Homo sapiens: one gene and its partners. The protein of the gene in region 1 purifies or fractionates together with the protein of each later gene. This does not show direct contact. Each region holds a gene or a part of one and is shown in the gene's direction. Other genes may lie near its edges. The genes, in order: SLC7A1, AGPAT3, TSPAN15, MTCH2, SGPP1, MAVS and TMEM11.

Region 1 (3,500 bases):
TCTCGGTCCAACTATTAGGCCAGGATCCTGGGATCAGAAGGTTTGAAGACTGATTGCAACTTGGTTCAGATTCTTGGGACAGAGAGGATTGAGGGCTGCCCTGGTAGGAGTTAGGAAAACCCAAGGCCTGTGAAACCCAGCTCAGCATAATGCTTCTGCAGCTTCGTTGCGCTGTGGCTGGAGGAATGAATCCCATTATGTGGCATGGCGTGCCCTAGGTTGATGTTCAGAGACACTGTGGAGTCAGCTTGTTATAGCCTGGTGGGGGCCAGGCAAGCCTCTCCCAGTCACAGTAAAGCTGCTCTGGGCCTAGGCTTGGTGTCTCGGTGTTCTCACCTGCCTCAGCACCCACTCCCAAAGCACATCCCTGCGCAGCTTCCATCCTGAGAACCTGTGCTCATGGAGACGCTCAGCACTGGTCTCCCCTCAAGAGCCTCCTCATTTCTTTTCAGGGATTCCCACCTGCAAGGCCATTGATTGCATTTCCAAGGTGTTCAGCAGCTGATGCACATAAAACCCGGGCTGAGCCTTAGCAGAAGCTCTTTAGAATCAGCTAAGACTATTGGGGACCCCTTATTCCTCCCAAGGGGCCCAATGCTAGAATATTCTCTGAGGTCTCCCACTTTCTTAATTGACCGAGTGGGGTTGCACAAGTGAATCCATACAAAAATGGTTAATATCTTTATACTCCCTCTTAGAATTGATCATATGCAAAATAATTCATACAGAACTCTGTGTTTCAAAGCTGGTGGAAAAGATTTGCACTCTGTTCATTTCGGGTGGGAAGATAAGGCACCTCATTCAGAATGGATGCTCCACTAGCAGGTAGCTCATGTCTTGGAAATCACGCTGCAGGCTCGGCCCTCCAACAAGCCACATAGAATTATTTACCCTAAGGTACTTGGAGTTTTAAAATAAATTGATCCAATTAAGTCACACAAATAGAATTTCTCAAATCCATCTAGCCTGCAGCCACATTTCTCTGGCTCTCTGTGCCAAATAGGATCCTGGCATTACTGCTTCCTATTTCTCTCCTTCCCTTTTGCTCCCTACAGCAGTAATTTTGTGGGAAGTGGCCTAGTATCTTTAGCATCTGAGGGCCGCTGCCACTTCTCAGAGCAAGAGAGATCCTCTCAGGGTATTCCTCTGGGCTGCTCATGGTGGAGGTCATGTCGCCCCGAAGGAGAGACCATGGAGGATGTTCCCCAGAAGCAACAGCGGGAGGTGGTGTTCCCGGTCTCTCCTCGTCTATCTACAATGCAGCATTTGACTATATCCTTCCCATTTTATACCTTGTGTCCCGGGCAGCTCACTTTGGAGGCTTATTGAGAACTTGAGTTGGTGCACGTCATTTTGCTTGAAGCAGATGTGGCGGTCACGCAATGCCTTTCTTCCCAGGTACCAGCCAGAGCAGCCTAACCTGGTATACCAGATGGCCAGTACTTCCGACGAGTTAGATCCAGCAGACCAAAATGAATTGGCAAGCACCAATGATTCCCAGCTGGGCTTTTTACCAGAGGCAGAGATGTTCTCTTTGAAAACCATACTCTCACCCAAAAACATGGAGCCTTCCAAAATCTCTGGGCTAATTGTGAACATTTCAACCAGCCTCATAGGTAAGAGCTAGCCCTTCCCTGGGGCCTTGCTTGTTGGCATTGCATGGTTTCTAGGCAGTGGAGCTGGAGTTGGGGGAAGGTGCCAGAGAAGATGAGCATCTGTCTTGCTCCTGGACTGGGACATAGTTACTCTGTGTTAACTGTAGTTGTGCCTTCGGAAATGGAGCCTCTCTCTCCACAAGTTTAGGGGAGAACAGTGGATGCCTGTGGGAAATTGGGAAATGGTTGAGTTGCAGCTTGCTGTCTTTTCCTTCCCCCTTAGCTGTTCTCATCATCACCTTCTGCATTGTGACCGTGCTTGGAAGGGAGGCTCTCACCAAAGGGGCGCTGTGGGCAGTCTTTCTGCTCGCAGGGTCTGCCCTCCTCTGTGCCGTGGTCACGGGCGTCATCTGGAGGCAGCCCGAGAGCAAGACCAAGCTCTCATTTAAGGTGAGCAGCTCGGCCTAGGGAAGGAACCCTGGTACACAGACCCTGGCCCTCCTGATGCCTGGCCAGCCCTGCGTGGGCTCAGCCGGGCCTGGGTGCTCCCGAGGAAGGTTTTTGCTAGCCAGCTTCAGGTAAGATGGGGCAGGGGTCCTGAAGGCACAGAGAGGACCAGACCCTGGAAGGAGGCAGCAGCCCTTCTCCCCTGGACGTTTCCCTGAGTAGTCAAGGGCAGGCTGACACCTTCCTGCATGACACAGGCCAAGAGAGACCTCGCCAGTCCCTGGATATTCGGCATCTATTTCTGAATTCTCTGGAAAATAAATGTCCCTTGTGATCAGTGTTTTATGAAATGTGCTGCCTCTTCCCCAGACAGTATCAAGGGTGCTGCTCATGAAGCCACTTGCCCCTAAGTTTATACATAATAGCAGACCCAGTGGAGCAGTCCCTCCGGGGTGGTGGGATGCTTCTCGTAAATGTCTGCTCAAGTTGATGCATGAGTTTTCCAAGCCTTGGAGACGGGCAAGGCTTCTGCATTTTTAGATTACACAAATAATAAAAAAGGTTGTTGACCTTAGAGGTAAAGTGGAGGTCCGTCTTCTAGTCCTTTCTTTAGCAGGAGAATCGCAACAGAGAAAAATGAGAATGGAGTTCATTTGGCCATTCAGAGCTTAGAATCAAATCCCCACCTACTAAGATGTACCCTTGGGTGTGTTTGTGTGTGTGTTTGGGTGCGGGCTGTGTGTGGGGTGTGGGAGTGGGGGTGGGCACTCCCTCTCTCTTCCCCACACTCGCCCGACGGTCCCTGTCACTCTCAGTTGTGCTGCCTTTACTAGACAGTTTTACTGAACTATTGGAACCGGCGCCACTGCCATGGATTGAAGCCACCTCCTGTCTCTTCAGGTTCCCTTCCTGCCAGTGCTCCCCATCCTGAGCATCTTCGTGAACGTCTATCTCATGATGCAGCTGGACCAGGGCACCTGGGTCCGGTTTGCTGTGTGGATGCTGATAGGTATGTGATGCTGCTGCCAGCACGTCCAAGATCCTGGCTTCCCCTGGGGGTCTCCCTTGTTTCAGATTTCATAACAGAATGACGCACATCCAGTCAGCAGCTTTCTCGAAGATAATGCTGAATCCCTGGTAGGCTGTGAGTCCTCTCCTCCCTGTTAGATACTTTTTGTTTCCATTGCTTCTTGTCCAAACTATTTATTCTTTTGGGCAAGACCTTGATATTAACAGGAACAAGGTGATGAGTCTGCTGCAGATAAGGTACCAGTTATTTTCACCCCAGACAGGAAAGTCTGGCCTGTGCCTCCTGGCCCCCTGGCCTGCCCAGCACCAAATTGGTACGGGCACTAGGCCCAGGCAGGGTGGATGTCATGGGCTCCTCTGTGATTGCGTCTTCTCTGTGGAGGGAGAGTGCTTTGGAGCCTATGGGAGATGCCACTAGGGTGGGGAGCT
Region 2 (3,500 bases), on another chromosome or scaffold:
TTGTGATGTGGTGTGTGTGTGGTGTGTGGTTTGCGGTGTGTGTGGCATGTGTGTGGCATGTGTGGGGTTTGTGATGAGCTGTGGTGTGTGGCGTGTGTGTGGTTGTGTGTGTGTGGCGTGTGTGTGGTATGTGTGTGGCATGTGTGGTTTGTGGTGTGTGTGTGACGTGTGGTTTGCAGTGGTGTGTGTGTGGTTTGTGGTGTGTGGCGTGTGTGTGGTTTGCAGTGTGGTGTGTGTGGCATGTGTGTGGTTTGTATGTGTGTGGCACGTGTGTGGGGTTTGCAGTGTGCTGTGCAGCATGTGTGTATAAGCGTGAGGCATGTGCGGGGTGTGCAGTGAGCAGTGCCCCGGTGTTCCTGTGAGGGTGTGGGCGTGGCCACCCTGACGCTGTCCCTGTCCCTGTCTTTGCAGGACGGCTGTCCTCAGCGAGGGGCCGTGCACCCGCTCCTGAGCAGCGCCATGGGCCTGCTGGCCTTCCTGAAGACCCAGTTCGTGCTGCACCTGCTGGTCGGCTTTGTCTTCGTGGTGAGTGGTCTGGTCATCAACTTCGTCCAGCTGTGCACGCTGGCGCTCTGGCCGGTCAGCAAGCAGCTCTACCGCCGCCTCAACTGCCGCCTCGCCTACTCACTCTGGAGCCGTGAGTGTCTGCTGGGCCAGTCCCTGCCGCCTGGGGCTCCCGTGGGGGTGGCGCGCGACCATGCACGGGGCAGCCGTGGGCTCTCAGGCAGGAAGTGAGGGCTATGCAGGAGGTGCCGAGGCCATCTGGCTGGCAGGCTGTCGGAAGGCACCTGGCTACCTCTTTTTCTTAGCTTGAGCTGTGTGACGTGCCACTCTCACCATTCTGACCCATAGCAATGGCAGCTTCCCACGGTTTACCAGAGCATATGGGAATGTTTAAACAAAAGTAAAGAGAATGTTGAGTTCTGTTTACCCGTTACCAAGCTCCAACAGCTCCCTACATGGCCCCTCGTGTGTCCTGCCCACACTGCGCCAACACCAGAGCATGCTGACGCGTATTTCAGCATGCATCCCTGAAAGAAAAGGTGTCCTGCCTCCCTGCGTATCAAACACATGTGTAGCTGTGTGTCTGTCCGTATGTGCCTCTGTGCGTATGTGTATTATACATAGAGAAACCGATCTGTACCTGTCATGTGGACAGAGACTCAGAGGCTTGGTAACAACACCCACTGTGGACAGGTAACCGCTCACACCGGGCGTCGTGGGGACATGAACAGGCGCATCTCTGGAGGGTGGTTTGGCAGTGGCCGTCAACAGTTTAAGTGGTTGCAATTTTCAACTCAGCAATTCCACAGAATAACATGCAACCTACAGAGATGTGCAAAAGTATGCAACTGGACAGGTGTTCTCATTTTATCACAGGTATTCTCATTATTGTATTATTTTTATAGTAGCACAAAACTAGAAGCAACCCAAGCACCTGTCACTGGAGACTAATTATGCGGCACCCATACAGGGACCCTCTGCGGCCATCATGGAGAGCCTTCATCTTGCCCGTACAGTTTTAAGCGAAAAAGGAAGTATACAACAAAGTCCATAGTATGCTATGATTCATTTTGTGTCTTAAGAAAGGATGCTGTGTGTGTGGTGTGTACATGTGTGGAAAAATCCCAGAAGGGGCTGGGCATGGTGGCTCATGCCTGTAATCCCAGCACTTTGAGAGGCTGAGGCAGGTGGATCACCTGAGGTCAGGAGTTCAAGGCCAGCCTGAGCAACATGGTGAAACCCTGTCTCTACTAAAAATACAAAATTAGCTGAGCATGGTGGTACACACCTGTAATCCCAGCTACTCGGGAGGCTGAGGCAGGAGAACTGCTTGAACCTGGGAGGTGGAGGCTGCAGTGAGCTGAGATCACACCACTGCACCACTCCAGCCTGGGCAACAGAGCAAGACTCTGTCTAAAAAAAAAAAAAAAGAAAACAAAAATCTCAGAAGGATGCCCGAGAAAACTGCGTGATGCTGATATCCAGGGAGTGGGGAAAGGAGGGGATTCTTACGTTTTATTTCACACTCTCATGCTGTTTCCATGTTTTTGCATGAGCGCATAGACACTTCGTCTCATATGGGAAACGGTGAGCGCATAGACACTTTGTCTCGTGGGAAACGGTAAGCGCGTAGACACTTTGTCTCACGTGAGAAATGGTGAACCCACATACACTTTGTCTCATATGGGAAACGGTGAGCGCATAGACACTTTGTCTCATGTGGGAAAGGGTGAGCACGTAGACACTTTGTCTCATATGGAAAACAGTGAACGCGTAGACACTTTGTCTCGTGGGAAACGGTGAGCGCGTATACACTTTGTCTCATATGGAAAACAGTGAGCGCGTAGACACTTTGTCTCGTGGGAAATGGTGAACCCACATACACTTTGTCTCATATGGGAAACGGTGAGCGCGTATACGCTTTGTCTCATGTGGGAAATGGTGAGCGCATAGATACTTTGTCTCATGTGGGAAATGGTGAACCCACATACACTTTGTCTCATATGGAAAACGGTGAGCGCGTATACACTTTGTCTCATGTAGGAAATGGTGAGCGCATAGACACTTTGTCTCATATGGGAAATGGCTGGCCTGTAACCTTGTCTGCACGATCTCCTTCCAGTTCAGGAGCCGGTAGCACTGCTGAAAAGGCTGTTTATGTCAGCTAACTTTTCATGCCTGCGACACCCCACTGTCTGCAGAGAGACTAGTAACCCAGCCCTTAGACTAGCTTGTCTTAAATGTGTTATAGCTTCAGTTCCTGGTTTGTTTTTTCTCTTTTTTTTTTTTTTTGAGACTGAGTCTCGCTCTGTTGCCCAGGCTGGAGTGCAGTGGTGCGATCTCGGCTCACTGCAAGCTCTGCCTCCTGGGTTCACGCCATTCTCCTGCCTCAGCCTCCCGAGTAGCTGGGACTACAGGCACCCGCCACCACTCCTGGCTAATTTTTTTTGTATTTTTAGTAGAGACGGGGTTTCACTGTGTTAGCCAGGATGGTTTTGATCTCCTGACCTCGTGATCTGCCCACCTCGGCCTCCGAAAGTGCTGGGATTACAGGCGTGAGCCACCGCGCCCGGCCAGTTTGTTTCCTTTTTTAAATGAAAGGCTGCTGCTTTTTTCTGTGGGAAGGGAGAATTGGAAATCCTATAATATAAAATATACAAATGAGTTATTCATGAGTATAACTGGATAAGATGAATACATACAAAAAGGGCAAATATTAACTGATGAAAACTAAATTACAGACTCCTACTTTCTAGCAGTATTCTGAAGCTAAAATACTACAAAACAGCTAAATCCTGCCTGAAACTGGCTTTTTAATGCATTTCTGGGCTCACAGTAAGGAAACAAAAACCTCTCAGCTCCACCCTTCCACCAAATCCCTTTAGCAAAAACCGGGGTGTGCAGAAATGGAATGTCAGCACTGCCTTTCAGGAGCCTAACCCTTGGGCAGCTGTAGCAGAGGGCGCTGAAGCTAAACCAGGACTCTTGAGCGAGGG
Region 3 (3,500 bases), on another chromosome or scaffold:
CTGACATCGTGCCACGGCACTGTAGTTGGGTGACAGTGTAAGACTCGGTTTAAAAAAAAAAATTACTATTGACCAGGCATTGTGGCTCATGCCTGTAATCCTAGCACTTTGGAAGGCCAAGATGGGCAGATTGCTTGAACCTGGGAGTTCGAGACCAGCCTGGGCAACATGATGAAACTCTGTCTCTACTAAAAATACAAAAATTAGCTGGGCGTGGTGGCATGCACCTGTAGTCACAGCTACTTGGGAGGCTGAGGTAGGAGGATCACCTGAGCTCAGGAGACGGAGGTTGAAGTGAGTTGAGATTGTGCCACTGCACTCCAGCCTGCATGAGACTCTGTTGCAGAAAATAAAAAATAAAAAATAAATTACTACTGATAGAAATGCATGCATGGGCTTGTTACAAAATTTAGAAGTAGAAAAGGGTAAGGCCGGGTGAGGTGTAATCCCAGCACTTTGGGAGGCTGAGGCGGGCGGATCGTGAGGTTAAGAGATCAAGACCGTCCTGGCCAACATGGCGGAACCCCGTCTTTACTAAAAATACAAAAATTAGCTGGGTATGGTGGCGTGTGCCTGTAGTTTCAGCTACAGCGAGGGCTGAGGTGGAGAAACGCTAGAACCCGGGAAGCGGAGGTTGCAGTGAGCCTAGATAGCGCCACTGCATTCCAGCCTGGTGACAGTCTCAAAAAAAAAAAAAAAAAAAAGGAAAGGGTAGTGGTTAGTGACAAGCCTCCCCTCCTACCCCTCTCTCCTGGCCTGCCCAGTCCAGAGGAGGCCTTTGTTATCAGTTTCCTGTCACTCTTTTCTGAGCTATCGTAGTCAAAGGATGTCCTAGGACAAACATATGTATATTTAAAATAAGGTAGCACACTATACACAGAACTACGTATGTAGCCCCTCTTTCACTTAAATTTAAATCCACGTGAATTATGGAGATCTGCTAGGAGCTGCCTCATTCTGTGTGTTGGCTACATAGATTCCACTCTAGGCTATGCCACATTTATTTAATAGTCCCCAGCTGGGGAACTCTTAGGTTGTTCCCAGTCTTTCTTTCCCTCTCTTTCTTTCTCTTTCTTTCTTTCTTCTCTCTCTCTCTTTCTTTCTTTCTCTTTTCTTTCTTTCTTTCTCTTTCTTTCTTTCTTTCTCTCTCTCTCTCTCTCTCCCCCCCCCGTCTCTTTCTTTCTTCCTTTCTTTCTTTCACTGAGAACAGTGACACAGTGAGTATCTCTGAATGTGTCATTTTGCATGGGTGTATATGTCTGTGGAGTAATTCTAGGAGTGGGGTTGTTGAGTTAAGGGGTATATGAATATATGTTATACATGCAGACACGCACCTGCCATCAGTATATACAGCTTGATGAGTTTTCACAAAGTGAACACACCTGTACACTGAGCCCCCAGGTCAACCAGCAGAATGGACAGCAGAAGGCAGATACCCCTCAAACCCTCTTCTAGGCACTATCTCTTACCTTTGTGGGTGATCACCACTGGATTATCTAGCAGTATAGAATAGCTTTGCCTGTTTTTGTATGTGCATTTAACATTTTGATGTTATTAAATTGTCCTATATAGAGGTGACACCAATTGTAATATTATTTACTTAATATGTTTATTTAAATTTACTTACTTTTTTTTTTTTTTGAGACAGAGCCTCGCTCTTTCACCTAGACTGGAGTACAATGGTGTGATCTTGGCTCACTGCAGCCTCTGCCTTCCAGGCTCAAGCGATTCTCCTGCCTCAGCCTCCCGAGTAGCTAGGACTACAGGCGCCTACTACCACGATGGGCTAATTTTTGTATTTTTGGTAGAGACGGGGTTCTACCATGTTGACCAGACTGTCTCGACCTCCTGACCTTAAATGATCCACCAGCCTGGGCCTCCCAAAGTGCTGGGATTACAGGCGTGAGTCACTGTGTCCAGCCTAAACTTCCTTTTTAAACTTAAATTTCTTTTCCTTTTTTTCCCTTTTTTAAAGTATATATTTTTTATTTTCCAGGCACATAGGTTCAAGTTGCCCTGAATATGCACGCCTTTAAATTTATTTTTAAAAGGAGGCTTTATATCAGTATTATGAATGGGAAACCAAGACGCCCATCATAAATAGCAGGTAAAGGTTTAAAATAAGTACAGTACAGGGAAAACAAAACAATGATACTAAATCCTAGCTGGATGTCATGGGTGCTGAAGGCTGTGACCCTGACGCCTACCCTCTCTGTTCAAAAGGTAGGTTGGCAAGTGCTTGAGGGGCTGAAAGACAAACTAGCACCCAAACTGAGACCCGCTCCTTGATGCAATCGGAGGGGTCGAAAGGGCATTGAACGAGGAAAGCTCAGTCTGTAAGTCCCTATGATAGGTATACCCCTAAACCACTTATGGTTATCTGTCCCACACTCAGGGCCCTCTTGTTTTCGGCAGGGAACTTTGGGGCTGCAAAAGGGTGTGTTTGAGGCTCACTTGTCAGAGCTGGCATGTACCCCAGGTCCCTGCATCCTCAGGTAGGTGCTCCTTGGCCCTTCCAGTAAGTCATGGGGATGTCTGCGGGAGAAATGAGCTCACGCTGAGGCACTTAGAGCCTCCTTTTCCCACCACACAGGGTGAATCATTCTGACACATGCGCCCTCAGCCCATTGGGGACACACCTCTAATTTTAGCACTGCCCACGGGGTATCTTAGAGATCCGTTTACAGGACTGCTTTTCCTTGCTGGACTGTGGGCTCCCAGAGGTCAGGATTGTAGTTCATCCATATCCTCCTCTGAATGCTGCCCCTGGGGCCTGTGCACACAGTAGGTGCTCAGGGGAGGCATGTTGCATGATGGTGATTGAGTCCCACTTGTACCTACAAGGCGAGGATCCAGCTTGGGGCAGAGGCCTGGCTGGGGGTGTAACCCGCAGTGGTCAGGTCTGCTGAGGCCTTGACTTTGCAAAGTGGGCAGGGCTGATCATGGTGCTACGGACTCTCCACAGAGCACCAAGCCTGTTTCCTTGATAACAGGGTAGGACTTTCAAGTGGGTAAAGGTGTCATGGCTGGGGAGTGTTGACTAATCAGGAAGAAAAGGACTTGGTGGGAGTTGGGGGCAAGTAGGGAGGAGCTGAGGGTGGGTAGGTGGTGGAGGCAGCAAATGCCAGAGGCAATAGGAACTCTTTCTGGGCTTTCTCCAAGGATGAACCTGCTTATTAGAGCTTGGCCTGTGATTTCTTACATTTCTTATAGTTTAATGGTTAAGAGTGTGGGCTGTGTACCAGGTTGCCTGGGTTCAAATCCCAGCTCTGACACTTAAAGGTTAAGTGGCCTAGACATAACTTCCATGCACCTAACCTACCTGAAGAGTTGCTAAGCAGATTAGATGGATTAATACATCTGAAGAGCTTAGAGTGGTGCCTGGCACATGATGAACACTCCATCAACTAGTCATGGATTAGTCGTTCTTTTCCTGCCTTCCTCTCTAGCCTTGCTGCTCAAGAGCCATAGACTAAGAATGAGAAGGGCTGTTAAAGACA
Region 4 (3,500 bases), on another chromosome or scaffold:
GGTGAAACCGTCTCTACTAAAAAATACAAAGAAAAAAAATTAGCCGGGCATGATGGCGGGTGCCTGTAGTCCCAGCTACTTGGGAGGCTGAGGCAGGAGAATGGCGTGAACCCGGGAGGCGGAGCTTGCAGTGAACCGAGTTCGCGCCACTGCACTCCAGCGTGGGTGACAGAGCAAGACTGTCCTAAAAAAAAAAAAAAAATGCAAAAGCCAATGGTAGACCTGCTTACATTTGCAATCCCAGAACCTAAATGCAAAGATTATAATTTAATTTTCTTTATTACTTCCTTACAGAGCCCTAGAGTAGAAAGATAAACTAGGAAAAACACAGCAGCTCTAAGATACTGCACAGTTACTGGGTTGTAGTCACAAAACAAAATTGTTCTCTTCTCCCAAAAATGTGAGTAGAGACTAAATGGAGCCTGTCATTTATCTAGAATGATGTCAGACTCTCCAAAATCACTTACCAATAAGAGAGCAACTTAATAATCTCAATAAAGGCCTCATATTTTTTATTTCAGCTTAATGACTTTGTTGGTGACCTTTCCTGTTTCTTTATTTTTTTCTCTTACCTGTAAAATTGAGAAAACAACAGAAGCCTGCTTTGCAGAGAAATTTTGAGAAGTAACTATAATAGAACATTGAGATCCATGAGTGAAAAGTATGATAAAATGACAATGAATGAGATCTTTCACATCCCATTCAAACTCTTCTTGACTCCAGCCAGGGCAGGAGGGCTGTGTCATTCACTTTCTTATCCTATACCACGATATCCACCCACATTCCTTCTCACAGGCATTTGAGTGTCATTTGTTTAGATTTCAGAAGTGTGTGTTGATTGTTTCTAGACAACTCGAGAGATGATCGCTCGTTCTGCTGCTACCCTCATCACACATCCCTTCCATGGTATGTTTGCAGTTGACAACTGACCTTTCTTTTATAACCTGATCTCTCCTGACCACTTAGATAGGTTGACGTGGGAGTTGACTAAAATGCCTTGCCTGCATGTTTTTGTTTGCTTGCTTGTTTTGGCTTTTATCCAATTTATCCAGATAGCAAAATGTCTTTAGGTGGAAAATCTTTTTTTTTCCCAGGGCTATCAAAATCTATCTTAACATAGTTTTTTTTTGTTTGTTTGTTTTTTGTTTTTGAGACGGAGTTTCACTCTTGTTGCCCAGGCTGGAGTGCAATGGCACAATCTTGGCTCACTGCAACCTCAGCCTTCCGGGTTCAAGCAGTACTCCTGTCTCAGCCTCCTAAGGAGCTGGGATTACAGGTGCATGCCACCACGCCTGGATAATTTTTGTATTTTTAGTAGAGATGGGGCTTCATCATATTGGTCAGGCTAGTCTTGAACTCCTGACCTCAGGTGATCCGCCCACCTCGGCCTCTCAAAGTGCTGGGATTACAGGTGTGAGCCACCGCACCTGGCCTTAACATAGTTGTAAACATCTTTTCTCTATATTCCACAGTGATCACTCTGAGATCTATGGTACAGTTCATTGGCAGAGAATCCAAGTACTGGTAAGTATTTTTGTTTTCACATACTCAAGGAGATCTTTTGAAGCCAAAGTACTAGAATAATACTACTTTGTATTTTTATGATACCCTTACAATTTGTAGAACAAATTCGTATCTGATGTCATTTGATCTGCACAAAAAACAATAAAATGGGAGAAAATATACCCAGGCAGGTTTAGTAGCCTACGTAGGATTTCAGAGTAAGTTGCAGAGCCCCTGACTCCATATGACTATACCCCTAGGTAGTTAATATTTTCACTTCTATCTCCAAATTTAGCTATCTTTGCAGAGTGAGAGAGTGCTAGAAAAGTGTGAGGGAAGGAGGTCGTGGATTTGACCTTGTCCAATGTGATAATTGAAATTATTTTGTTTATAGCTCCAAAAGAATCTTAATATATTTTACCTTTTCTTCTTGTGTACGTAGTGGACTTTGTGATTCCATAATAACCATCTATCGGGAAGAGGGCATTCTAGGATTTTTCGCGTGAGTAAATGTTGATTAGTGTGTAATTTTTGCATGAGTGGGAAACGTTTTCTGAAAGTAAGAATAGTGAGTCTTTGTTTAATCCTTGGGGAAAACGTACTCCCTGGGCTTACCTCACGTTACATTCTATTTAGGCCCCTTATTTTTTTTTCTTTTTTCTCTGCAGAAAGGCATATTTAGGCCCCATATGACTAGAATTATCTTGTAAAGATCCCAAACCTTTACTTCTAGATACTTAAAACATTTGAGGCCGGGCGTGGTGGCTCACGCCTGTAATCCCAGCACTTTGAGAGGCCAAGGCGGTTGGATCACCTGAGGTCAGGAGTTCAAGACCAGCCTGGCCAACATGGTAAAACCCCACCTCTAGGTGTGGTGGTGTGTGCCTGTAATCCCAGCTACTCGGGAGGCTGAGGCAGGAGAATTGCATGAACCCGGGAGGTGGAAGTTGCAGTGAGCTGAGATTGCACCACTGTACTCCAGCCCGGGTGACAGAGTGAGACTCCGTCTCAAAAAAATAATAATAATTAATAAATAAATAAGGAATTTCTTTTTTTAACAAAGGACTTAATTCCAAGTTTCTACCCTTGTAGTAAACTCCCAATTCTATATAGATAATAAAATGAGAAAAATTAAATGTTGAAAAATGGGGAAATCATCTTAACTTGTATTTTCCTTACCGTAAAAGAGTAAGTTTTTGCAAGGCTTGAATTTACTTTGGAAGAACTTAGACTACTACCCTCATTCTTCTATGAGGAAAAATTTTGCATCATTACCGAAATGGTGTTTTTTGTTTTTTTTTTTTTAATTTTCAGAGTATCTCCCCATACGGATTTTGAATATCATAAATACCCTGTGAGATAGGCAGGACAGCTATAATTAGTATCACTTTAGAGATTAAAAAACATTGATGCTCTGAGAGTTTCATCTGCTGCCTGTCACATCGCTGCTGAGTGCTGGAGCTGGCATTTGAAGCTGGTCTTCAATCCGTGGGGAAATGCTCTTCCCACTATTCCATGCTGCCTCACCTAGGTCACCCAGACCCTAGAAATGTGGTTTTTGATGCCTCTCATCTGTATCTGTACTTGGGACCATTCTTGCTTTGTAATTTTTCTCGTCTTTTGCTCTGCCAAATATGAATATCAGATAGCTTAGCAAAATCATTTTTTTAAGCTAGTCAAAGCAAAACAATATTTAAGTCTCTTCTGCAAAGCACCTCGCAAATCTTTTGCCTCCCTGCTTACAGTTATGAATAGTAAGGTGAGCCACTGAGGGTATAGCCGACCTGCATTTTAAACATAGGAACAAAAGTCACTGGAGATCAGCTTCAAGTACAGCTGTGTTAACGAGAATGAACTAGGTATGCGGGCTGGATTCTGGTGTTTGATTCCTTTTTTACTTCCCTAGAATGTTTTGTGACCTCTAATTATTTGACAAACATTTGTACTGAAGAGCCTGTCATGTTACTGATCACATTTTTTGGTTCTTATTTTTATTG
Region 5 (3,500 bases), on another chromosome or scaffold:
CACTTGAGCCCAGGAGTTGGAGACCAGCCTGGGCAACATAGCGAGACCCCCATCTCTATAAAACATTAAAAAATTAGCAGGGTATGGTGGTGCACACCTGTAGTCCCAGCTACATGGGAGGCTGCATTGGGAGGATCACATGAGTCCAGGAGTTGGAGGCTATGGTGAACTATGATTGAACCACTGCTAGATTGCACTCCAGCCTGGGTGATAAAGCGAGACCCCACTCCCCACCTGCCGCCAAAAAAAAAAAAAAAAAAAAAAACTTAAATAGGGATTACATTGACTATAGATCATTTTAGATAATAGTGCCATTTTAACATATTAAGTTTTAATGTATTAAGTCTTCTAATCCATAAACATGGGATATCTTTTCATTAATTAGGTCTTTTTTTTTTTTTTTTTTTTTTGAGATGGAGTCTCTCTTGCTCCGTTGCCAGGCTGGAGTGCCGGGGTGCAATCTCAGCTCACTGCAACCTCTGCCTCCCGGGTTCAAGCAATTCTCTTGCTTCAGCCTCCCAAGTAGCTGGGACTACAGGCACGCGCCACCACGCCCAGCTAATTTTTGTATTTTTAGTGGAGACAGGGTTTCACCATGTTGGCCAGGATGGTTTTGATCTCTTGACCTTGTGATCCGCCCACCTCAGCTTCCCAAAGTGCTGGGATTATAGGCATGAACCACTGTGCCTGGCCTTAATTAGGTCTTTAATTTCTTTCAGTAATGTTTTATAGTTTTCAATGGACAAACCTTTCACTTCCTTAGTTAAGTTTATTCCTAGGTATGGGTATTTTATTCTTTAGGATGCTACTGAAAGTGGAATTATTTTTCTTACTTTCATTTTAGGGTTTTTTTTTTATTGCTGGTATGTAGAAACACAGCTGATTTGTGAGTGTTGATCTTACACCCTGCAACTTTGCTGAATTCATTTATTAATTCTAATATGTTTTCTTCATGGATTATTTGGGATTTTCTATCTTTAGGATCACTTCGTCTGTGAATGGGGGTATAGTAGCCCCGCTCATCAGCAGAGGATATGTTCCACGACCCCCATTGGTGCCTGAAACTGTGGATAGTAGTCAACGCTATATATACTGTTTTTTTCCTGTACATATGTATCTATGATAAAGTTTAATTTATAAATTAGGCACAGTAAAAAAAAATATCACTTTATCTGTTATTTCCTTTAGCCATTAAGATCTGTAGTCTTTTTTGTCTGCTTACTGATGAAATTCTTTTTTACTTTGACACTTAGAAGTTCAGAATTCTGTTATTCAATGGGGAGTAAATATGAAAGTCATCATGTAGTCAGAACTGGATCAAGTGTTCCCCAAAATGTTTTCTTTTTAATTTTTTTTTAGACAGAGTCTCACTTCTTCACCCAGGCTGTAGTGCAGTGGCGCAATCTCGGCTCACTGCAACCTCTGCCTCCCAGGTTCAAGCGATTCTCATGCCTCAGCCTCCCAAGTAGCTTGGACTACAGGTGCGTGCCACTACACCTGGCTAATTTTTGTATTTTTAGTAGAGACAAGGTTTCATCCTGTTGGCCAGGCTGGTCTCAAACTCATGATCTCAAGTGATCAGCCTGCCTCGACCTTCCAAAGTGCTGCTGGGATTACAGGCATGAGCCACCATGCTTGGCCCCAAAATATTTTTTTTCCATAAAAAAATCTAGAGAACATATCATAAAGGTGGAGAGTAATGACCAAAAAAAGTCGGTCAATAAAAATGACTTATTTTGTTTTCTTTAGTCACCTCATCCCAGTGAAATCTGAAGGTGCCATGGAGCAGAGAAAAGGAAAGCCTCATAGCTTCTTTAGCCTCTGCATCTGGCTTGATAACATTCCATCTCTCCTTTTTAAACACCTTGGACATCGTAAAATTGAATAAATGTGGGTTAAGTCATACTTGGTTTCATTGCTCCTATTTAAAATCTCTACCCTTCCCCGTCCTACCTTCACCTCTAGCTTCTGAGACTCTATAGGTGATTTTTTCTTCAGTTTGTTGTGTATAAAGAACTCTTATCAGTAATTTTGTACATTTCTACTTCCTTATAGGGTCCAAGTTAGAGAAGGAAGTGCAGAAAGATTTTTTTAAAGTTGACTTTTTTTTTTTTTTTACTTCTTTTGGTTCTTTTTTTTTTTTTTTTGCTGTCAACAGCTTTTTAAAAATTAGACTTTAAAGGTTTTTAAAGACTTTAAAGGTCAAGTCCCTGCTGTAGAGACAGACACCACTGTTATCTCTTACCTAGATTATACCAACAGCCTTCTAACTGGTCTTCCTGTTTTTGCCTTACTCTCTTAAAATTTAATCTCTACATAGCAGCTTTACTCAAAACCCTGCAGTGGCTCCCCATTTGATTCACAATAGAAGCCAGTTTTCTTATGGTGGCCTCCCAGGCTCTACTTGATCTGGCCCCCCATTACCTCCCTAACCTCTTCTACTTGCTCTCTCTGCTATGGCCACAGCTAGCCTCCTTGCCAGTCATACTTGGTGATCAGAAACTTTGCTCACTGATTCGCCTGCCTAGTATATGCTATTCCCACAGATAATCTGCTTGGCAAGTATACTCACCTCACCTCCATTCCGTCTTGCCTCAAATCTCAACTTCTCAATAAAGCCTACACTATCTTCTATTTAATACTGTAACCTGCCCCATTTACACTCTGAAACTCATGACCCTATTTTTATATCTGTTTTAATTAAGTTAGACTTGTTGATACTGTGGCAATGACTTAATCCCAAAATTGCAATGACTTAACACATAACAAAATCTTGTATCTTGGCCAGGAGTGGTGGCTCATGCCTCTCATCTCAGTACTGTGGGAGGCCAAGGCGGGTGAATTGCTTGAGCCCGGGAATTTAAGACCAGTCATGGGCAACATGGCGAGACCCTGTCTCTGCAAAATATTTTTTAAAAAATCAGCTGGATGTGGTGGCACACCTCTAGTCCCAGCTACTCTGGAGGCTGAGGTAGGAGGGTCGCTTGAGTCTGAGAGGTGGAGGTTGCAGTGAGCCGAGATCATGCCACTGCACTCCAGCCTGGGCAACAGAGCGAGACCCTATCTCAAAAAAAAAAAAATCTTGTGTTACAAATCCATTATGCGTTAGCAAACAGCTTTGTCCACTTTGACCCTCAAGGACCTAGGCTGATGGAAGCTTGCCCGTCTCGTGATGCATCTCAACATGTAGTTTCCCAGGGTCACATCTATAGGAAAGAGAGAGTTCAAAGGAAGATTGAAAGTGGCATAAGTCACTTTTTTCCCCAGCTCACTGGCCAAAATTAGTTGCATGACCCTAATGTAAGTGAATCCAAAATGTAGGAGGAGCACAAGGAATATTAATGAGCATTACTATTTCTTCAACACATGTTCTCTTTTTATTTTCTCCATGTTACCTATCAGGTTTTATTATATGATTTATATATTTTATATAACTTATACATATTTACATATCATATCATTTGCATGCTTTTGTGTTTACTGTTTAATGCCTCCTCCAG
Region 6 (3,500 bases), on another chromosome or scaffold:
TCTCCTTCCTCAGCCTCCCTATAGTCCCTGATTCCTTCTATTTTTTTTTTTTTTTTTTGAGACGGAGTCTCGCTCTTGTTGCCCAGGCTGGAGTGCAATGGTGCAATCTCAGGTCATGGCAACCTTCACTTCCCAGGTTCAAGCAATTCTCCTGCCTCAGCCTCTCGAGTAGCTGGGATTACAGGCATGCGCCTCCACGCCTGGCTAATTTTGTTATTTTTAGTAGAGACAGGGTTTCTCCATGTTGGTCAGGCTGGTCTCGAACTCACGACCTCAGGTGATCCACCCACTTCGGCCTCCCAAAGTGCTGGGATTACAGGCGTGAGCCACCACGTCTGGCTTCTTTTTCTTTTTTTCCCCCGAGACGGAGTCTTGCTCTGTTGCCCAGGCTGGAGTGCAGTGGCGCGATCTCAGCTCACTGCAACCTCCGTCTCCCAGGTTCAAGCAATTCTTCTGCCTCAGCCTCCTGAGTAGCTGGGATTACAGGTGCTTGCCAGCACGCCTGGCTAATTTTTGTATTTTTAGTAGAGACGGGGTTTCACTATGTTGGCCAGGCTGGTCTTGAACTCCTGACCTCCTAATCCACCTGCCTTGGCCTCCCCAAATCCTGGGATTACAGGCATGAGCCATCGTGCCCAGCCCCTGATTCCTTCTTTTTTTTTCTTTCTTTTTTTTTTTAGACGGAGTCTCGCTCTGTCGCCCAGGCTGGAGTGCAGTGGCGCGATCTTGGCTTACTGCAAGCTCCGCCTCCCGGGTTCACGCCATTCTCCTGCCTCAGCCTCCTGAGTAGCTGGGACTACAGGGGCCCGCCACCATGCCCGGCTAATAATAATGTTGTATTTTTAGTAGAGATGGGGTTTCACTGTGTTAGCCAGGGTGGTCTCGATCTGACCTCGTGATCTGCCTGCCTTGGCCTCCCAAAGTGCTGAGATTACAGGCATGAGCCACTGTGCCCAGCCCTGATTCCTTCTTGATATCACTACATCTTTGTCCTCTAGGGACCTCGGACCGTCCCCCAGACCCACTGGAGCCACCGTCACTTCCTGCTGAGAGGCCAGGGCCCCCCACACCTGCTGCGGCCCACAGCATCCCCTACAACAGCTGCAGAGAGAAGGAGCCAAGTTACCCCATGCCTGTCCAGGAGACCCAGGCGCCAGAGTCCCCAGGAGAGGTCTGTCCTCATAGTCTACCTTGAGCCACCACTTTTGTGTTCCTATCTGCCCACTTCTGCCCATTGAGCCTTCCAGAAACCCTCTCCCGTCCCCTATAAATCACGCCTAATCTCTGCTCAGAACCCTAGGGCTTCCTCAGTGGGGATCTGCCCCAGACCAGCTTCCAGGCTGCTGACCAGGTCTTCACCCTGTGGCAGCCCTAATCCTCTGTCAGCAACCAGCTGGGAGACCACAGTTTTGTGTGTGTGTGTGTGTGTGTGTGTGACAGTGTCTCATTCTGTCACCCAGGCTGGAGTGCAGTGGAGTGATCTTGGCTCACTGCAACCTCTGCCTCCTGGGTTCAGGTCATTCTCCTGCCTCAGCCTCCTGAGTAGCTGGGATTACAGGCACCCACCACCACGCCCAGCTAATTTTTGTATTTTTAGTAGAGATGGGGTTTTGCCGTGTCAGCCAGGCTGGTCTCGAACTCCTGACCTCAGGTGATCTGCCCACCTTTGCCTCCCAAAGTGCTGGGATTACAGGCGTGAGCCACCGCACCTGGCAATGCTGTGTGTTTTCTGTGAGGTAGACGTAAGGACACCTGTGGACAGAGGGTCTGGGAATTACCAGAACCCAGGCAAGGGCTCCCCTGGCTCCTGTGCTCCATGGTGTGGGCTGAGGCCTATAGGAGATGCCCCAAGAGCACAAGCTGCCCTTTGTGAGCTCTTGGGAGAGGCAACTGCCTTATTCATATTTTCCCTCATTGCAGAATTCAGAGCAAGCCCTGCAGACGCTCAGCCCCAGAGCCATCCCAAGGAATCCAGATGGTGGCCCCCTGGAGTCCTCCTCTGACCTGGCAGCCCTCAGCCCTCTGACCTCCAGCGGGCATCAGGAGCAGGACACAGAACTGGGCAGTACCCACACAGCAGGTATGCATGGAATCTGGAATTATAGGGTCCTTCTGATCTCTCAAGTGAGGGTAAGAATTAGAGTTGCCCCATCTGGCTTCCTTGAACAGGAGACAAGGTGGGAATAAAGGGAGTTCAACCCAGGAAGCAAACCAGTTCCTTAGTGGGTGTATCAGTTAGCATTTGCTGTGTAACAAATAGTCCACTCCAGTTTTCCAAATTTTTTTTTTAGTAGCTTAAAATACAGCCATTTATTTAGCATATGATCCTGTGGGTCAGGCATTTGGGCTACCTACATGGGCATTTCTTCTGGTCTTGGCTGAATTTCCTCTCAAGTACTCACCGGTATATACATAAGTTCTGCCTCTGGCTGTTTGCTGAGCACCTTGGTTCTCTTCTATGTAGTCTCTCATCCTCCAGCACACAAACCCATCATGGCAGCTGGGCAGAGTTCTCAGAGAGGGCTCAAAACTGGCACAGTGTCCCCTGTGCTCCATTCTGTGGGCAAAAGCAAGTTATAAGGCCAGCCTAGATTCAAGGAGTAGGGAAATAGACTCCCTCCCTAGACGGGAGGACTGACAGGCACAGTGCAGTGGGGCTGGGTGGAGATGAGCGAGATAAGTAGGGCCATTTTTGCGCTCTGCCAAAGGGACTGTAGGGAACAGCCAGGGCCTATAGGGCAGTGGGAGAGGGACAGTGAAGGGCTGCATCAGCTGTTGGCAGGGGAACCTTTAGGCACTGTCTTACCGCAGAGATCTCCAGTTCCCAGTGAATCATGAAAACTTCTCAGTCCCCAGAGGAAGTAAGGTCTTCATCATCCAGTGGCCTGGACTCAACTCCAGATGTCAGTGCTCCCCCTCAGAAATATATAGTTGTCCATCTGGACCTCTCAGGCCAGCATGTCTCTTTCCTACTTCCCAAACTATTCCACATGACGCTGGTGCCCAGTCAGCCCTCAGTGCCCTGGGACAGCCACAAGACACATGAGCAGTTAGAGGCTGGGAGACGTCATCTTAGTACTTTTGTCATCCCCAAACTGCTCCAAGCACCTGTCTGCTTTGCAGTGTCACCTGGCCACGGGATGCCTTTCAGGAGTTGCTGTAGACCACAGAGGCAGAGGGCGCTTAGGTTTCAGTACGTTTGTAGACACAGGTCCCATGAGATTCTGTGGTATTAGATTGTGGTGGGGGAGCTGTACATCAGAATCACCCTGACTTTTGCCAGCTGTGGGGCTTGGCATGTGCATTCCGAGTTCCGTGGAGAGTCCTGCTGCAACTGCCTTTACAGACCATCACCACCTGCTATCCTCTGCTTCCCCCACCCAGGTCAGGCAGCCTCCCAGGGGTGGCTTTGTCCTTGTCCCCTCTCTTCCCAAGCCTCCGGGATGGCCAGGCCTCTCGGCTGGTGTGAGCTGTTCTGCATGAGCCATCCTGCCACCCCT
Region 7 (3,354 bases), on another chromosome or scaffold:
GCACCTGGCCACTTTTTCTTTCTTTTTTTTTTTTTTTTTAAACATAGACTCTATTAATTGCTCTCTTACTGGTCATTTCACACCTGCAATGAAAAGCAAAAATACAGTCCCTTAGGAAGCCCAGGGCTCAAAAGATTCCAACTAGCTCTTACTTAAAAAAAAAAAAAAAAGTCCATATAATTTAAAAAAAAAAAAAAAAAGGAAAAAAAAAGATCTCCCATGCACCAGGGTTCAGATCACCCAGTTCCTAAAGCCCATGGCCTTACCAGTTAGGGGGCAGCTGGTGATGCTCTGCAGTGGTTTGAGATAACCTTCTGACTGGGTTCTTTCCTTCATTAGGTTTTGTTTGACCCACAAGCAGAAGCAAGCCATATACGGGTGGCTGCTGGGTGGTCAGGAGCTGGCTGGACGTGGCTGTCTCCTGGGAGTACTTGGCAGTTTCTTTTTTCTTTTTTTTTCTTTTTTTTCTTTCTGTCATTCAGGCTGGAGTGCAGTGGCACAATCTTGGCTCACTGCAACCTCTGCCTCCCAGGTTCAAGTGATTCTTGTGCCTCAGCCTGCTGAGTAGCTGTAATTACAGGTGTGCAGCACCGCGCCTGGCTAATTTTTGGTAAAGACGGTTTCACCTTGTTGGCCAGGCTGGTCTCGAACTCCTGACATCAAGTGATCTGCACACCTTTGCCTCCCAAAGTGCTGGGATTACAGGCGTGAGCCACCGCACCTGGTCATGGCCACGAATTTCTGAAGTAAGAGAAGTGCAGCAGTCCCTGTCAGCAGTGCAGACCTGAACCCAAGGGCCCAGCAGTGGCAGCTAAAAAACCTGTGTCTGCACTGACAGCACCCCACTCCCACCAGTGTACCAGGAAGTTGGAGTGCTGACTGCCTGGTCGTGGCCGGGTGAGCTCCAACGGAGGGATCCTGCGGCTTTGGGTGCGTCTGTGTGTGTTTTGGTTTGAACCTTACCGTCTCCATATAGGGTCTGTTGCCTTATAGAATCCTAGAAATCCACTTCCCTAGACTTCACGTGTTGTCCTTTCCCAGTGGAAACCGAGATTCCCTTTGCCTAACTGGCTTTAAAAGCAGAATTGGTGAGCCTCTGGCCTCAGCGCCGTTGTGCAGGACCCTGCCTTTGTTTGAAGGCAGTGTGGCTTATGTCCTTTGTGTTTCTGCTGTGGATAGGTGTCTTAGACAGTGGGCAGCAACAGTGCCCAGCCCATATGAAGACGCCGAGGCTGCAGGAGGCCGGGGCCATGGTTTGACAGGCAGGTGGGGGCAGACCCACGCCACCATCTCAGGATGTGTGCTGGCGAGTGCCCCCATGTCCACGTGCTTGCTTATGGCTGTGTCATTCACAGGACTGCCCACAGCCGAGGGCAGAGGATGCCCAGTCTCCTCACTCCCTGTGCTGGGGGGCGGGCCACACCTGGCAACAGCAGTGAGGTGGGAGGGAGCCTGGAGGGCCTTGGCTTCTCGCTGCTTCCAGGCTGGTTGGGACTCGTGGACGCACCCACCCATCCGTCCCAGCAAGCGATGGAGCCTGCAGAGGGGTCTGGGTGGATGTGGGTGCCAGCTGGGCTTGCAGGGGGGCCGGAGGGGGTGAGGGGGTGGGATCTGCCCACTGCTGTGTTTCCAGATGGGGCAGTCGGTTCCAGGACCGGGGTTTCCACTGGAATTTCCTCTGTGGGACCAACAGTGGTTTTCACTACATTCAGGATGGCGCTGGCCTGCTGGGCAGAGAAAGGTACCGCACTAGGGTGGATTTGGGTGTTGGCGAGAACATTGTGTAACCCCAGCTTGACACCTCCCTTTTGCTTTGAGTGTTCCTGAGGGAGGAAGCCCGCCTCTGGTGCCCGCCCCAAGGTGTCCCTGGCCTGGCTTTGACAGTCAGTAGGATGCACAGCTGACTTGGAAGCAACTCCATTTCCGTCTCAAGATTGGGACACGATTTGGTCCTCCACCCCTACCTTGTTATCTGGCCTCTCTGCTCCTGTTGCCTGATGGACTTGAGACCAGAAGGGAGTTCTCTTGGCCAGGAGTGCTCCCACCTGAGAGTGGAGGCCCCGCCCCTCCCCGCACACCCAGGGCCACAGCCAGCCCATTGCGCCACCGCCACTCATTTCTCATCTGAGCACGTGGGGGCACTGCTCGGCCTTCAGCTTTCCAGCGCCAGTGAAGACCCTGCTTTGGGTGTGCTTGTTTGCTGTAGGTAGCTTCTAAAATGCTGCATCTGGCTGGATGCGGTAGCTCATGCCTGTTAATCCCAGGACTTTGGGAGGCCAAGGCGGGTGGAACACTTGAGCCCAGGAGTTCGAGACCAGCCTGGGCAACATGGCATAACCCCATCTGTACAACAAAATTTTTTTAATTAGCCAGGCAGCCAGGCGTGGTGGCACATACCTGTAGTCCCAGCTACTCGGGAGGCAGAGGTGGGAGGATCTCTTGAACCCGGGAGGTCGAGGCTGCCATCAGCAGAGATCACACCACTGCACTCCTGCCTGGGTGACAGAGCAGGAACCTGTCTCAAAAATAAAAACTGTTGAATCCTACCTGGAAGTAACAGCTGGCCTCTCCCTTACCTCTCCTCTAAGACCAAATGGAAAAACTCCACCGAGAACTTTAGAAGGAAAACCCTCCTTTCCCCATTTCATAAGCTGCTCGTGCAGTCTTACAGTAACAGCTCATCATTTCATCCCTGGCGAGGCAGCCGTGACACTGGCACAGTCACAGGTGGCTTGGCAGCAACCCATGTTTAGGAGGCTCTTGTCCCACCCTCAGGGCACTGATTTCTCCCCAGTGCATGCCGTTTAATTAGGGCCTATGATTGAATTAGGAGGCTTTGCCTTAGCCTGGCTTAGTTACAGTGACTTTTTCAGGATAAAGAGTTCCGTTTGCCCAAGTCCAAGCCAGTGCCTTTTATGAAAGTGGTTCCCACCCAGGGGCGGGGTTAGGGTCCCCATGCTTGGGGGCACAGTCAGCCCATTACCAATGACTTTCATCTTTAATGTGGCCACATGAGATCGTTAACTAGTTGTTTATCCAACCAGAATGCAACCCTGCCTGTTAGGTTTGCTTATTTGTTTGCTGAAAGCTTTGAGCTGGGAGGAGTCTCAGTAGTAGGAAGAACTACGATTGCCTGTTCTTTTTCCTTGAAGTTTCCCGACAGTCCGATTTCCACCATCCTTCACTTGGAATTGCTCCCATCTTTGAAGGAGGCTGGAGGGAGTTACCTTCATGCTGGGCTGAGGTTCTGGGGTGGCTTGTTATGAATGTCTTCACTCGTCACTCCCATATTACGGCCAATGGCCAGGTGGCTCAGCTCCCCATGACTCTCCTCTGCACCGCAGCCAGGTGTGC

Evidence for each region.
Region 2: the proteins of SLC7A1 (region 1) and AGPAT3 purify together in Homo sapiens (affinity purification with mass spectrometry; 3 studies listed by BioGRID and IntAct, with this or other methods). This does not show direct contact.
Region 3: the proteins of SLC7A1 (region 1) and TSPAN15 purify together in Homo sapiens (affinity purification with mass spectrometry; 3 studies listed by BioGRID and IntAct, with this or other methods). This does not show direct contact.
Region 4: the proteins of SLC7A1 (region 1) and MTCH2 purify together in Homo sapiens (affinity purification with mass spectrometry; 3 studies listed by BioGRID and IntAct, with this or other methods). This does not show direct contact.
Region 5: the proteins of SLC7A1 (region 1) and SGPP1 purify together in Homo sapiens (affinity purification with mass spectrometry; 3 studies listed by BioGRID and IntAct, with this or other methods). This does not show direct contact.
Region 6: the proteins of SLC7A1 (region 1) and MAVS purify together in Homo sapiens (affinity purification with mass spectrometry; 3 studies listed by BioGRID and IntAct, with this or other methods). This does not show direct contact.
Region 7: the proteins of SLC7A1 (region 1) and TMEM11 purify together in Homo sapiens (affinity purification with mass spectrometry; 3 studies listed by BioGRID and IntAct, with this or other methods). This does not show direct contact.

Annotation. Positions count from the first base shown.
Region 1 is NC_000013.11:29,515,689-29,519,188, reverse strand, and holds part of SLC7A1 (high affinity cationic amino acid transporter 1), read left to right. Parts: intron 1-1,398; coding exon 1,399-1,616; intron 1,617-1,878; coding exon 1,879-2,045; intron 2,046-2,942; coding exon 2,943-3,051; intron 3,052-3,500. UniProt on the Homo sapiens protein: High-affinity, low capacity permease involved in the transport of the cationic amino acids (arginine, lysine and ornithine) in non-hepatic tissues.
Region 2 is NC_000021.9:43,959,223-43,962,722, forward strand, and holds part of AGPAT3 (1-acyl-sn-glycerol-3-phosphate acyltransferase gamma), read left to right. Parts: intron 1-411; coding exon of another isoform or gene 412-459; coding exon 460-637; intron 638-1,409; exon of another isoform or gene 1,410-1,557; intron 1,558-3,500. UniProt on the Homo sapiens protein: Converts 1-acyl-sn-glycerol-3-phosphate (lysophosphatidic acid or LPA) into 1,2-diacyl-sn-glycerol-3-phosphate (phosphatidic acid or PA) by incorporating an acyl moiety at the sn-2 position of the glycerol backbone.
Region 3 is NC_000010.11:69,454,465-69,457,964, forward strand, and holds part of TSPAN15 (tetraspanin-15), read left to right. Parts: intron 1-3,500. UniProt on the Homo sapiens protein: Part of TspanC8 subgroup, composed of 6 members that interact with the transmembrane metalloprotease ADAM10.
Region 4 is NC_000011.10:47,629,060-47,632,559, reverse strand, and holds part of MTCH2 (mitochondrial carrier homolog 2), read left to right. Parts: intron 1-848; coding exon 849-906; intron 907-1,472; coding exon 1,473-1,524; intron 1,525-1,945; coding exon 1,946-2,005; intron 2,006-3,500. UniProt on the Homo sapiens protein: Protein insertase that mediates insertion of transmembrane proteins into the mitochondrial outer membrane. Catalyzes insertion of proteins with alpha-helical transmembrane regions, such as signal-anchored, tail-anchored and multi-pass membrane proteins.
Region 5 is NC_000014.9:63,700,566-63,704,065, reverse strand, and holds part of SGPP1 (sphingosine-1-phosphate phosphatase 1), read left to right. Parts: intron 1-3,354; exon of another isoform or gene 3,355-3,500.
Region 6 is NC_000020.11:3,860,334-3,863,833, forward strand, and holds part of MAVS (mitochondrial antiviral-signaling protein), read left to right. Parts: intron 1-998; coding exon 999-1,171; intron 1,172-1,920; coding exon 1,921-2,080; intron 2,081-3,500.
Region 7 is NC_000017.11:21,200,808-21,204,161, reverse strand, and holds part of TMEM11 (transmembrane protein 11, mitochondrial), read left to right. Parts: intron 1-3,354. UniProt on the Homo sapiens protein: Plays a role in mitochondrial morphogenesis.